Homo sapiens: one gene and its partners. The protein of the gene in region 2 purifies or fractionates together with the protein of the main gene of each other region. This does not show direct contact. Each region holds a gene or a part of one and is shown on either strand. Other genes may lie near its edges.

The links. Proteins that work in one complex are often made in the same cells at the same time.
Region 1: the proteins of USP54 (region 2) and VPS39 purify together in Homo sapiens (affinity purification with mass spectrometry; 2 studies listed by BioGRID and IntAct, with this or other methods). This does not show direct contact.
Region 3: the proteins of USP54 (region 2) and IQUB purify together in Homo sapiens (co-immunoprecipitation; one large-scale study listed by IntAct). This does not show direct contact.
Region 4: the proteins of USP54 (region 2) and VRK3 purify together in Homo sapiens (co-immunoprecipitation; 2 studies listed by BioGRID and IntAct, with this or other methods). This does not show direct contact.

What each region holds. Positions count from the first base shown.
Region 1 is NC_000015.10:42,166,805-42,170,304, forward strand, and holds part of VPS39 (vam6/Vps39-like protein), read right to left. Parts: intron 3,063-3,500; coding exon 2,920-3,062; intron 734-2,919; coding exon 590-733; intron 110-589; coding exon 1-109. UniProt on the Homo sapiens protein: Regulator of TGF-beta/activin signaling, inhibiting SMAD3- and activating SMAD2-dependent transcription.
Region 2 is NC_000010.11:73,581,343-73,584,842, reverse strand, and holds part of USP54 (ubiquitin carboxyl-terminal hydrolase 54), read left to right. Parts: intron 1-3,500.
Region 3 is NC_000007.14:123,500,096-123,503,595, reverse strand, and holds part of IQUB (IQ motif and ubiquitin-like domain-containing protein), read left to right. Parts: intron 1-232; coding exon 233-394; intron 395-479; coding exon 480-652; intron 653-843; coding exon 844-999; intron 1,000-3,500. UniProt on the Homo sapiens protein: Adapter protein that anchors the radial spoke 1 (RS1) complex to the A microtubule of outer doublet microtubules in axonemes. The triple radial spokes (RS1, RS2 and RS3) are required to modulate beating of the sperm flagellum.
Region 4 is NC_000019.10:49,975,968-49,978,170, forward strand, and holds the end of VRK3 (serine/threonine-protein kinase VRK3), read right to left. Parts: intron 818-2,203; 3' UTR 501-817; downstream 1-500. UniProt on the Homo sapiens protein: Plays a role in the regulation of the cell cycle by phosphorylating the nuclear envelope protein barrier-to-autointegration factor/BAF that is required for disassembly and reassembly, respectively, of the nuclear envelope during mitosis.

The sequences.
Region 1 (3,500 bases), on a different chromosome or scaffold from region 2:
TGATAAGCTCACTGTACTTGTGAGCCTTCTTTAGCACGTGCTCGCTCTCCTCGATGTGGCAGTGATTGTTCTCCAGGCGTAGCAAGGGGGCCACCAGGGCCACATTTGTCTGCAGAAAGAGCAGGAGTTCAGTGGAAACTGCTTCCTGGGGAGCCCCACCCTTCCCTGGCCCAGGCCTGCTCTAGGCTGAAAGGCCAGGAATGTAGCACAAGCAAGAGAAAGCAGACAGCCCTCTTTCAGGACAGCAGGTAGAGGCTTTTAGAGCATTTATGGACCTTCGCACAATGTGTTTTAATGTTCTGTGGGGGAGAACATTTCTTGAAGGAAATACTGTCCCAGCTGACTTTGTAGCACTAACTGCAATCCGACCAGAGAAGATGAATCCACTGTACAATTGTGCATTGATATCTTGCCCTATCCTCTTAATTCCAAGAGACTCACAGACATCAGGAGAAGTCTATATGGTTTCCAGAATCAAAGACTTCACTCTTACTAATGGCAGGTCCCTCAGGGTCTAGCACTCCCTTTTACTTTCCCAGACTGTCAGGGTAACTGGGAATTGTGGCACCCGAGCGCTCAGGTAACTCACATGGAGATAGCACTTGAGCAGGGTGGTGTCGATGATTTGTAGCAGCTTCTTCTTGGATTTGATGGTGGGAGTGCCTTCCATGAGCGGTGAGGTGCTTGACTGGTGATCAGAGTCATTCAGCTTCTTTACCAATTGACTTCGTTTCTGCAAAGGTCAAAATGTGGGGTTAAGGCCAGGACTAAGTCTTCCTTTGTCATCTGAGCTACTGGGTAATTCTGAATACCTCCAATCAGCTCATGCCTATTGGCCTGATCTCACATTAGCATTCGATTTTTAGCACTGCCAAATTGCCACAGAGACAACAACAATTATTTATTGAATATTTACTACAGACCAGGCACCATGCCAAGCACTTTATATATACCATCTTAAACCTAAAACAAGTGCCGATAATATTATCCTTATTTTACAGGTGAGGAACCCAAGGCACAGGTGTCAGCTGCTACATAAGGGGTAGGGCAGGATTCACACTGGGGGCTGACTCCAAAGCCCATGTTCTTTTATTTTTTTAAAAATCAACCTTATTGAGGTATAACTTACAATAAAATCTAATCTTTTAAAGTGTACCATCAGATACATTTTGACAGATGTGTACATGCATGTAACCACCTCAGTGAAGGAAGATAACATTTCTATCACTCCAGAAAGTTCCTCGTGCTATTCCCAAACAATCCCACCTACTGATCTGCTTTTGATCCCTGGAGATGAGTTTCTGCCTATCCTAGAACTTCATCCAGTATGTATTCTCTTGAGTCTGGCAGAGCCCATGGTCTTGCTCTGCCATCTCTCTGGCACAATACTAGTGTCAGTTACTTCACACATTCCCATTGTCAGTGAAGAAGGCCAGGGAAGGACGTGTGCTCACCTTCCTACAGCTAAGACATTGGCAGTGGAGGGCCTTCCACAATGCCACTGGCTTTGGGAGATAGTATGCCCAGGAATCTTTTTTACTTAGCACAGTGTGTGCAGTGTGTAGGCAGTGGCAAGTTTGTGTGCTCCTTGCAGGCTGCCAGCCCCAGGAGGGTACCCCTGGAGCCCAATGTCAAGGAAGGGCCAAGGCCACCCATGCCTGATCAGACCTGCAGGGACTCACTGACCCAGAGGCAGGGAGTGGAAAGTGGCATGACAATTTTTCCAGCAATACTTCTTCTTTTTTTTTTTTTTTTTTGAGACAGAGTCTCACTCTGTTGCCCAGGCTGAAGTGTAGTGGCGCAATCTCGGCTCACTTCCACCTCTGCCTCCTGAGTTCAAGCAATTCTCCTGCCTCAGCCTCCTGAATAGCTGGGATTACAGGCGTGGGCCACCACACCCAGCTAATTTTTGTATTTTTAGTAGAGACTGGGTTTTGCCATGTTGGCCAGGCTGGTTTCGAACTCCTGACCTCAGGTGATCTTCTGTCTCAGCCTCCCAAAGTGCTGGGATTACGGGCATGACCCACCACACCCGGCCAACAGCAATACTTCTCAGTGCCTACCCTAGAGCATTCTGGAGACCTCTTACAAAGATCTGCAAAACACTTAAGAGGAAAAAATATCAATAAGGTCTCTGATTCTGAATGGGTACACAGGAAATAAACAATAGCCTTCTGTGACAGAAATCTAGGGTTAAGAGACTTTAATGGAGATGCTGGCTTTAGTGCTGACTTAAAAAATGTATCTGTCTATAACAGTAAATCATAAAAAATTTTAAATCTAAATACCTCCCTAAAAAACATGTTATATAAGGACATTTATTGATAAGGAAGTACTTTCTCAGTATATGGCTAAATTTTTAAAAAGTTAAGCTATAAAACAATCTACAATTTGATATCCATTTGCAATAAATAAACCAAGAAGTAAATAAACAAAAGCTAATTCATAGATATACAAGTCTAGAAGGACAACACTAAAATGTTAGTTTCTTACATTCTGGTGGTAGAGTTATAGGTAATTTGTATTTCTGCTTTGTACTTTTTTGTGTGTGTTTTCCAAGTGGTTCCACATACAGGAGGCATTTTCCCCAAAACCATGTATATTACAAAAAGTTTGTTTTAAAAAAACTTGTATGCTTCTATCAACTAAAATTTACTTTTTTTAGTTTCTATAACAGCTTTGTGTGAATTTACTAGGAATTGGGTGTGTTTATTTTTATCAAGATTTGGCAGAAAACCCCACCTCAATGGTACTGTAAAGTTAGAAGTAGCAGAAAGAAACTTTACCCCAGGCAGACTTCCTACAGCATTAATTTACAGACTGCCTTGGCATTAGAGAAGGCCCTCAATTCCTTGCCACAAAGAAACAAGTACTGAAACTCCCAGGCAAACTCTTTCACGCACTCTGTACTATACCTACCTGTGTCAGGTAGTCAATCAGAGCTAAGTGAGCCTTCTCCAATTCAGCCCCGGAGAGCACAGGCAATGGGTTGGGATACTGCAACTGCTTTCTGTAGTCTGTGGGCAGCAGGTCAGGGTACAGGCCCATCACATGGGTGGGATCTATATGGAAGGTAAACATGATTCCTCTGGAAAGGAGCCCAACAATTTAGGGATAAAATAAAACAGGACTATTACTATAGCAAAATAAGTTCCAGACTGATTTAAAAAAAAAAAAAAGACTCTCAGTTCATAAACATTCAACGAGCTGTAGACTTATGATTTGAGCACTTTTTATACATATGTTAAAATTCACTAAAACATCACAAAAATGCCTGACTATATTCAAATACACACACATAATTAGAATTGAATATTTATCAAGCCTCTGAAAGTAGAGAATAAAAAATTTCTAAGGAAAAATGCTGATATTGAAGTAGAAGAGATCAAGAGACTCAACAATAAAAAATTTAAGTCAAAAAAAGAAACATTACTAAAAAAAAAGACAACAGGCTAGGGAATATATTTGTAGTATATATGGCAAGAGGCTAATTTGTTGAT
Region 2 (3,500 bases):
GTTTCTAAATAGGAAATAGTTACCAATTATTAACCAGCTTTCATATTGTTAGGATATTACGGGTCTCAATGGTCGGTTATCTCTGGTCTCAAGTCCTTTCACTCTATTTTTAGGGAAAATGTGTTTAAACCCCTATTTTAAGGAAATGATAGTTTATAGATTATTTATAAATTATAGTTAATTTAGAAAATAGAAAAAAGGAAAAAAATCCATAATTTCATCATCCTAACAAGACCGCTATCATTTTACATTTACTTACCCCGATGTTGCTGAGTTTTAAACTTCTCTGTTAATTCATTCTGCGCACATTTAGCTCTGAGAAACAGGTTTCTGAACTAATAAAACACCCAATAATTGCCATACTGTGATATTAAACAGTAAACCAAGAGGTTTCACATATAACCCTCAGTGGATTGTAGGATCACAAACTACGTCAACGTCTCTTCTTTTTTTTTTGAGACAAAGTCTCACTCCATTGCCAGGCTGGAGTGCAGTGGCGTGATCTTGGCTCACTGCAACCTCCGACTCCCTGGTTCAAGCAATTCTCCTGCCTCAGCCTCCCGAGTAGCTGGGATTACAGGCACATGCCACCACGCCCGGCTAATTTTTGTATTTTTAGTACAGATGGGGTTTCACTATGTTGGCCAGACTGGTCTCGAGCTCCTGACCTCGTGATCTGTCCGCCTCGGCCTCCCAAAGTGTTGGCATTACAGGCGTGAGCCACTGTGCCCGTTCACATCTCTTCTTTTCCTATAAATCAATCTTGGTCCATCTACCTTTAGACATATAAATATTTATTTCCCAAATGCCTCAATCCCTTTTGGGCCCAAAGTTCCATCTTCTTCAGTGAATTATTTGCATAATTTAAAATGTTTTTTATTTTGAATTTATAGAAAAGTTGGAAAAATAGTTACCTCTAATGATACCATCTTATATAACCATAATACATTTATCAGAACCAGGAATTAATAGTATTGGTATAACACTATTAACTAAAGAGCTTTCCTGAATTTCACCAGTTTGCCTACCATTATTATTTTTCCTTTTTTATTTTCAGTTTTTTTAAATTGTAATTTATTTTTTTTTTATTTTTAAAGACAGGGTCTTGCTTTGTCACCCTGGCTGGAGTGCAGTGGCACAGTCATAGCTCACTACAGGCTTGAATTTCCAGGCTCAAAAAGTCCTCCTGCCTCACCCTTCTGAGTAGCTGGGACTACAGGCAAGCATTAGCCTGGCTAATTAAAAAAAATTTTTTTTGGCCAGGTGCAGTGGCTCACGCCTGTAATCCCAGCACTTTGGGAGGCTGAGGCGGGCGGATCACCCGAGGTCAGCAGTTTGAGACCAGCCTGGCCAACATAGTGAAACCCCATCTTTACTGAAAATACAAAAATTAGCTGGGCGTGGTGGCAGGCGCCTGTAATCCCAGCTACTCCAGAGGCTGAGGCAGGAGGATTGCTTGAACCCAGGTGACTGAGGTTGCAGTAAGCCAAGATCGCGCCATTTTACTCCAGCCTGGGTGACAAGTGAGAAACTTTGTTTCAAAAAAAAATTTTCTTTGTTTTGTAGAGACAGGGTTTCGCCATCTTGCACAAGCTGCATTGTTCTTTTTCTGTTCCAGGATCCTATCTGGAATCTCACATTGCATTTTAGGTGTTTTTCTTCCTTACTCTTCTGTATTCTGTAAAAGTTTCTTAGTCTTTCTTTGTCTTTTATAACCTTGACATTTTTGTAGAGTATTGATCAATATCAGTTTGAGGGCTATTTGTCAAATATTCCTTAATTTGGATTTGTCTGATATTTTTCTGATGATTGGACTGAGATTATGGTTTAGGCAAGAATACCACAGAAATAATTGTGTCCTTTTCAGTGCATCATATCATGGCATTCATGATGTCAATATGTATTATTACTGGTTATTTTGACCTTGATCACTTGGTTAAGGTAGTTTCTGCTGGGTTTCTCCATTGTGAAACTACTATATTTTCCTTTGTAGTTAATAAATGCCTTAGTGGAGATACTTTGATACTGTCATTTTTATTAATGTCATGGAGTTCTCTACACATGCAATTAATAGTGTCTCCTTAAAGACTTTATTGAACTTTAGTTACTGTGAAGTCAATTAGCTTAAAGAGTCCATCTCCTTGGATGGGCGCAGTGGTTCACGCCTGTGCCACCGCATGGTTCACAACTTTGGGAGGCCGAGGTGGGTGGATCACTTGAGGCCAGGAGTTCAAGACCAGCCTGGCCAACATGGCGAAACTCTGTCTCTACTAAAAGTACAAAAATAGCCAGGCATGGTGGCGCATGCCTGTAATCCCAGCTACTCGGGAGGCTGAGGTAGGAGAATTGCTTGAACCCGGGAGGTGGAGGTGGCTGTTGCAGTGAGCCAAGATCGCATCACTGCACTCCAGCCTGGGTGACAGAGCGAGACTCTGTCTCAAAAAAAAAAAAAAGTCCTTCTCCTTAGAAACTTCCCACACTTTACACCTGGTTTTATCAAAGGGTTCCCAGGCTTTGCACGAACAAATTCTATCTAGTCTTCATTGATTTCAGTTCCATTCTAGCTCTGCTCATAATGAATCTCTTATGCTAATAACCTGTAGCTCTCTGGGCCTCATTTACCCCTCTGTCTCTTAGGGCGCCAGGCTCCTCCTGGCCCAGTGTCCTTCCAGGCCTCATCTCCCTTTATGCACAAGCCAGTTCCTTTGAATGACTGCTTTGGGTTTTTTCCGAAACAGGCTGAGAGAAGCTGACTTTGTTGGTGAAGAATACAGTGGGGGATAATTAGGGTGGCTGCAGCTGGAGCCTGGTTTATTACTTTGGCCTGAGAAAAATGGTAGCACATTAAGCTGTACTGTGTATACTTGTGAAAGAATCATTCTCTGTATTTCACTAATACAGAGAAAGTGTTTTTTTCTAAAGGTCACCAGCTTCTAGAGGTATGTCTTTAATTCTGGCAACCTTAATCTGTAATGATCTTTTCAATTTAGCCCTGTTGACTGTGGAGTTACTTGCTGTGAGCACAAGAATCCAAAATCCAAATGTGGACCAAATATTATATTTAGATCTATTTAGTTCAAACAAATTTTATACAGTGAATAACATTAGATGTTTCTTTGATTAATAAAATACAAATTTATTAGTATTACTGAATTCAAAGTAGCTTTTTGAATTATGTATTTTCTCAAGTGACATATACTATAAAAGCCCCATTTATGTAATGTGGATGGGGCAGACTTAGATTCTCTGACACTTGAAGCTTATGCAATTCAGAGGGCCTCCTTTAAGGAAAATATTTTTTGAAACAGAAAATGAGATATTGGGCCTTGAGAATCTGTGCAAGAGAAAGAGTCCTGAAGCTTAAGTTTCAGTGGCTTGGTAAATCTGCCTCTGGATGTGAGGCACTGCAAAAAGGTTGAGACCCACTGTTTTCCATCATTTCATACATGGAAAGGTTTTTGGCTTACCCACAGGAGGCTAGTGTTTTCAGATTGGGAACA
Region 3 (3,500 bases), on a different chromosome or scaffold from region 2:
TGAAAATTGCTAAGAAAATAGATATTAAGTGTTCTTACCACAAAATGATAAGTATATGAGGTAATGGACATGTTAATAGCTGTATTAAGCTACTTCACAATGTATACATAGTTCAAAGCATGCTGTACACAATATATACAATTTTTATTTGTCAATTAAAAACAAAAAATAAGATCAATGAATAGCCATTTCTTTGTCATAAAACTTTTAAAAATTTTATTTCAATTTTTAGGAAAAATTCTTAAAAATAATGAGACTCTAGTACAACATGGAGTTAAGCCACAGGAAATTGTACAAGTGGAAATCTTTTCTACAAATCCAGATCTGTATCCAGTCAGAAGAATAGATGGATTAACTGATGTCTCTCAAATCATAACTGTCACTGTCCAAACTGGTTCGTTATTTGATGTCTTTTAGATAAAGTATTTTTGAGTCCCTTCTTGGTTGAGCTTTCATTGAATCTTGGTGTTATCTCTCAGGACTTGATCAATACCAGCAGGTACCTGTTGAGATTGTCAAATCTGACTTTCACAAACCATTTCTTGGTGGATTCAGACATAAAGTAACAGGAGTAGAGTATCACAATGCTGGAACACAAACTGTACCTAAAAGGATTCCCGAAAGACTCAGTATATTTTGTAGGGATACGCAGGTAATGTTTTTATTTGTCTCTTTAGGTTTTTGAAGGTATAGACTCAATAATTGTACTGTATGACTCTCTCAAATTTCTCTTAAGTAATTATATGGCAATTAATAAAAGAAAATGAACTCACATATGTAGAAAAACTCCCTTATGTATATATATAGGGGATACTGATTTAAATTTTTAATGTTTTCTTTTAGACAGTTTTTCAGAAAAAAAATCTCCAACAAACTACAAATACAACATCCACACAGATGACTAACATTGGTGTATATGTATCAAATATGACTGATAAACTGGTAACACCAGGAAAGTATTTTTCAGCAGCAGAATACCATGCTCAAAGACTAAAGGCGGTGAGATAACTTTTATTGTGGATGAATACTAAAAATTTGATATATAAGCCAGTTGTTCCGAGTGTGTCTCTTTCTCCAAGCCACATTTGCTTGAGAAAGAATGCTCATGAGTATGGGTCATATTTCACTGCTAACAAAGCAGTCTTTATCTCCAGTATTCCCCCATGTAAAGAACCAGCATCCTAAATGCTCCTAATCCTTCCTTTTCTCTTAGGGAAACCCAGCTTCTTTGTGTATTGCCTTTGGCCATTATTAGCCTTCTCAACACTGCTGTCCCTTGGCCTTAAATCTTGTCACAGTAGAATCACCAAGGGAACTTTCGAGACTAATTGAAACCAAATAGGACAGTAGTCGATTTTCTCTGATATTAACATAGCCGCTCCAACTCTGTTTTATTTTTTTGCATAGTCTCTCATTTTTCATTCTTTTACTTTCAACCTATTTGATCTACCTCCTACCATCAATTTACTGTGAGTAAAAATGACCTGAAAGCAGTGACTTTAAGAGATTTTGCTTTTCAAATGACAAGAAATCTGGAGCTAGGCTATTCAGCCCAAGACCTTTAGAGACAAACTTGTAGTGAAAAAAAGTTAAGTCTGTTGACTTAATTGCCCTGAAGGAGACAGTATACCAGGGGAACCATGGGGTTAACTTTATAGCAGGCTTTATCAGTGCCAGTTATTCCAGCCTGATAATTTTTTACTTTTTCAGTCCAAACTAAATTTCACCAAATAAAGGAATATATGGAGTTATTATATAATTTGGGGAAGAGTGAAGTTTGAGTGGGATTTAGGGGAAGCAGTATTCTGATTGTCTCAATGCAAAACAAGGGTGTGTATAAATGGGCCAACATTAGGTCTGGACTGTGAAGTAGACCAAGGTCACGTTCCTTTGGAAACAAAGTTAAAAGAGATGGGAAATGTTTCTTAGAAGTTCTCTGAAGTTCAGCACCTTGGTTGTATAATTGAGGCTGCTTCTCTCTGTCAAAGTGACGTGCAACCTCTAGGCAAGAGTGGAATGTTTGTTTCTTACTGATCTAATTTCAGACAGGAAAGTTTCTGATAGTTTCTGAATTTAGAGAACGAAGTTTCTCAGTGAGTAAGAAGATAGCAGTCACTAAAAGAAGGGGATTGTTGAAATATTTTATAGTTGTAGAGTGTCCTTGGGAGAAATACTGTTTTTGTTAATTTTGTAGCTGACCTGATTAGTGCCTGTTATTCCAGCCTGACAATTTTTTACTTTCTCAGTCTTAATTAATTTTTACTTTCTTACTATACTGGGCATGGGTGGTGACTCTATGATGTCATCAGAATCATAAACTCCTTTCATCTTTCTACTCCATTAAGCTCATCATGAGCTTGTTACTGTATGAAGATAAAATGGTTGACTAACTTTCATCATGCCTGCATTCCATGTGAGAAGAAGGGAAAAGTCAAGGCAGCATGTTCCATGAATGCCACCTTCAAGGATTTCCCCGGAAAGCCCCACCCAGTGACTTCTACTTGCATCCCATTGGCTTGAACTATGTCATGTGACTATCCCTACTGCAAAAGTGTGTGATAAATGAATTTTTAAAGTAGCATATCATTGCTCCTCAATGAGATTGCAATCTTAGTAAGAGAAAGTAGGGCAAAATGGATATTAAGTAAGGAAATGGAAATTTCTGTCATTTTCCAAACTCCAAAAAATGATATTGAAAGAATAAAAGTATAAATATACAAGGACAAAGAATACATGAGAAGAGTAAATGTGAGTTGTGTTTTTTTTTTGAAGTTTTAAAGCAGATGGAAAAGTGTTAACTTGACTTAGTAGAGCAGAGGAAGTGAAAATCTAAATGCTGCCAACGAGGATGGCATCAAGAACCAAATAGATTTGCCCCATAGAGTCTTGAAAGGTGAATTGGAGGTTCTGTGGGAGGTGGAAGTGAGGTGTGACCTGTTAACAGAGGAATTTGTTAAAAGCCGGTATAGGGAGTACATTTCCGTTTAATAAGTTCTTTTAACCTTGATTCCTTTCTACTTGGGTCATGTTTATTTTATTTTTTTAATAGGTTTTGAGTTCACTGCTTACTATTTTAAATCTTTCTTGTTTCAAGAAAGATGATATTTTGCGTGACTACTGATATTTTTGGACTCATTCTTGCTATTTCATTTTGTTTTATTTACTAATTATTCTTATTTGTTTATGCTTTTTTTAGCCTTTTCTTTTTGTTGGTTTGAATAAATGTTTCTTTTTTTGTTCTTTCATAGTTCAGAAATAAGTATTTTGTTTTTTCTAGTGGTTATGTTACAGAAAAGTGGTCCCGATCCAGACCCCAAGAGAGGGTTCTTGGATCTCCCACAAGAACTAATTCAGGGCAAGTCCATAGAATAAAGTAAAAGCAAGTTTATTAAGAAAGTAAAGGAACAAAAGAATGGCTACTCCACAGACAGAGCAGACCTGAGGGTTGCCTGGTGCTGGTTGCCCATTTTTATGGTTATTTCTTGATGATATGCTAAACA
Region 4 (2,203 bases), on a different chromosome or scaffold from region 2:
CCCTGATCCCACCTGCTTCTCCTGAGCAGGGTTTATCAGTACAGGAGAGTCAGGGTATCTGAGAGCACTTCCTTCCTTACCTGGCCTCAGATTCTCCACACTCCAAAGTATGATGCATGATCTGAGTTACTCAAGACAAAATTCAGGGAGGCAGGTTTAGCTTCTCTCTTCCTTTTTTTTCTTTAGACAGGGTCTTACTCTGTCGCCCAGGCTAGAGTGCAGTGGTGCAATCATGGCTTGCTGCAGCCTCGACCTGCTGGGCTCAAGTAATCCTCCTGCTTCAGCCTCCCAAGTAGCTGGGACTACAGGCGTCCACCACCAGGCCTAGCTGATTTTTGTATTTTTTGTAGAGATGGGTTTCACCCTGTTGCCCAGGCTGGTCTCAAACTCATGGGCTTAAGTGATCCTCCAGTTTTGGCCTCCCAAAGTGCTGGGTTACAGGCATGAGCCACAGCACCTGGGCCCCAAAAGAACTTTTACAGATAACTGACTCCTCAAGCTCTGGTAAAACAATTTATTACCAAAGCACAGAGGTGTCAAGGGTAGGAGGGGTCCCCCCTGTGGGCCGGCCCAACCCCATCCAGCTTTGCTAGGACACTGGCTGAAGGGCAGGCCACCAAGATGGGGAACTTCACATTCACGGGAGGGAAACTGGGGCCCTCCGGGAGGCTAATCAGGACTGATGAGTATCCTGAAACCAGTGGCAGGAATGCACATTCCAGGGCTTGTTCTAGAAGCTTATCTGTGATTAAACAGCAGGCCTTGAGTCACATTACTTCATTTTTTTTTTTCTGTTGCACACTGCAAATGGAAAGTTCTGGAAGACAATAAAAATGCTGTTAGTGTCTCATTCATTCAAGGAACACCCTCTATGCCTTCACTTCATGCCAAGCACCTTCTAGGTTCTGGGGATGTCATCTTCTAGGTACTGGGGATGTCATCATGACCATACGGGATGAGGAGCCCCTGCTGGGCTTAGGATGAGGAGGAGGCGGGTGGAGACTACACACTAAACACACGCTTCCCTCCAGATGGGAACAAGGGCTGTGTGGAAAACAGGTGACATGATGAGCAAGTGGGTGGGGAGGCAGTGAGGATGCCTCATGGAGGATGGGGAAGGCCTCGGGTCTTGAGAAGCAGCAGGTACATAAAGCCAGGATGAGGGGAGCTTTCCAGAACTCGGGATGGCAGGTGCAAAGGTTCCGGGGTGGGGTCCAGCTTGGCCTGGTCTAGAATCAGAGGGGCGGGGGTGTGGCTGGTGCATCGTGCACGGGGGAGGAAGGGAGCTCGGCCTCGGGCCAAGGCAAGGAGCTGCTGTGGAGCACAGGCAAGATGACCTTCAAGGTGCTCGAAGATCACTGGGCTCCTTAAATGCCATCTCCTCGTTATGTTCCCAACCAAGGGGCTGAGTGAGTGGCCTCCAGGGAGCGCGTGGGTGTGAGACGGTGGAGACCCTGGGAGGTTGTCAGGTGTCAGGTTCTAAATGCCCTTTGCCCTGGGTGAGGAAGGCACTGTGAGACACAGTGGCACTGACGACGGGAAGCCTGGGCTCGCTCCATCGATAAACAGGATGAAGCCTCTGCCCTGTGCCATGCCAGAAAAGCAGAGATGACAGAGTCAGACGCGACCCTGCCCTGGAGGAGCTGGCTGCCAGCAGAAGACTGTGACAAGTGACCCCGTGGTCAGTCTCACCCGGGACCGAAGGTTTGGAGGAGGCTGCTGGGGGAGCAAGGGTGTTGGGGAGGACCCCGAGCTGTCTGGCCTGGATAACTGGGTACACGGAGGAGCTGTGTATCGAGCTGGAGAGGTGGGGGAAAGAGGGAGATTGGCACAGGTCATGACTTTACTCTCGGCACCACTGGTTGAGGCAGAGAGCCTGCTACTCCACCACGGAGAAAAGAGTCCCCACCCCTCACCACTGGCCCACTCTGTGCGCAGGTGCTCCACGAATCGCTTGACACACACGTGTCAGCTCAGGTTTCAGCCTCAGATGTAAGGAAACGTTGTGGGAATGCAGAAGCACTTGTAATCCAAGCGCCAAGAAGAACGTCGCTGCGCCGGGAGACAGGCCGTCAAAAGGAGATGCTGTTCAAGATGCCCTGCGACTAGGATCTCACAATCGTGGTGCTGCTGACCACGGGGCCGGGGGATTCTTTGTGGGGTGGTACAGGTGGGCACCGTGCTGCATGTCACAGGATGTCAG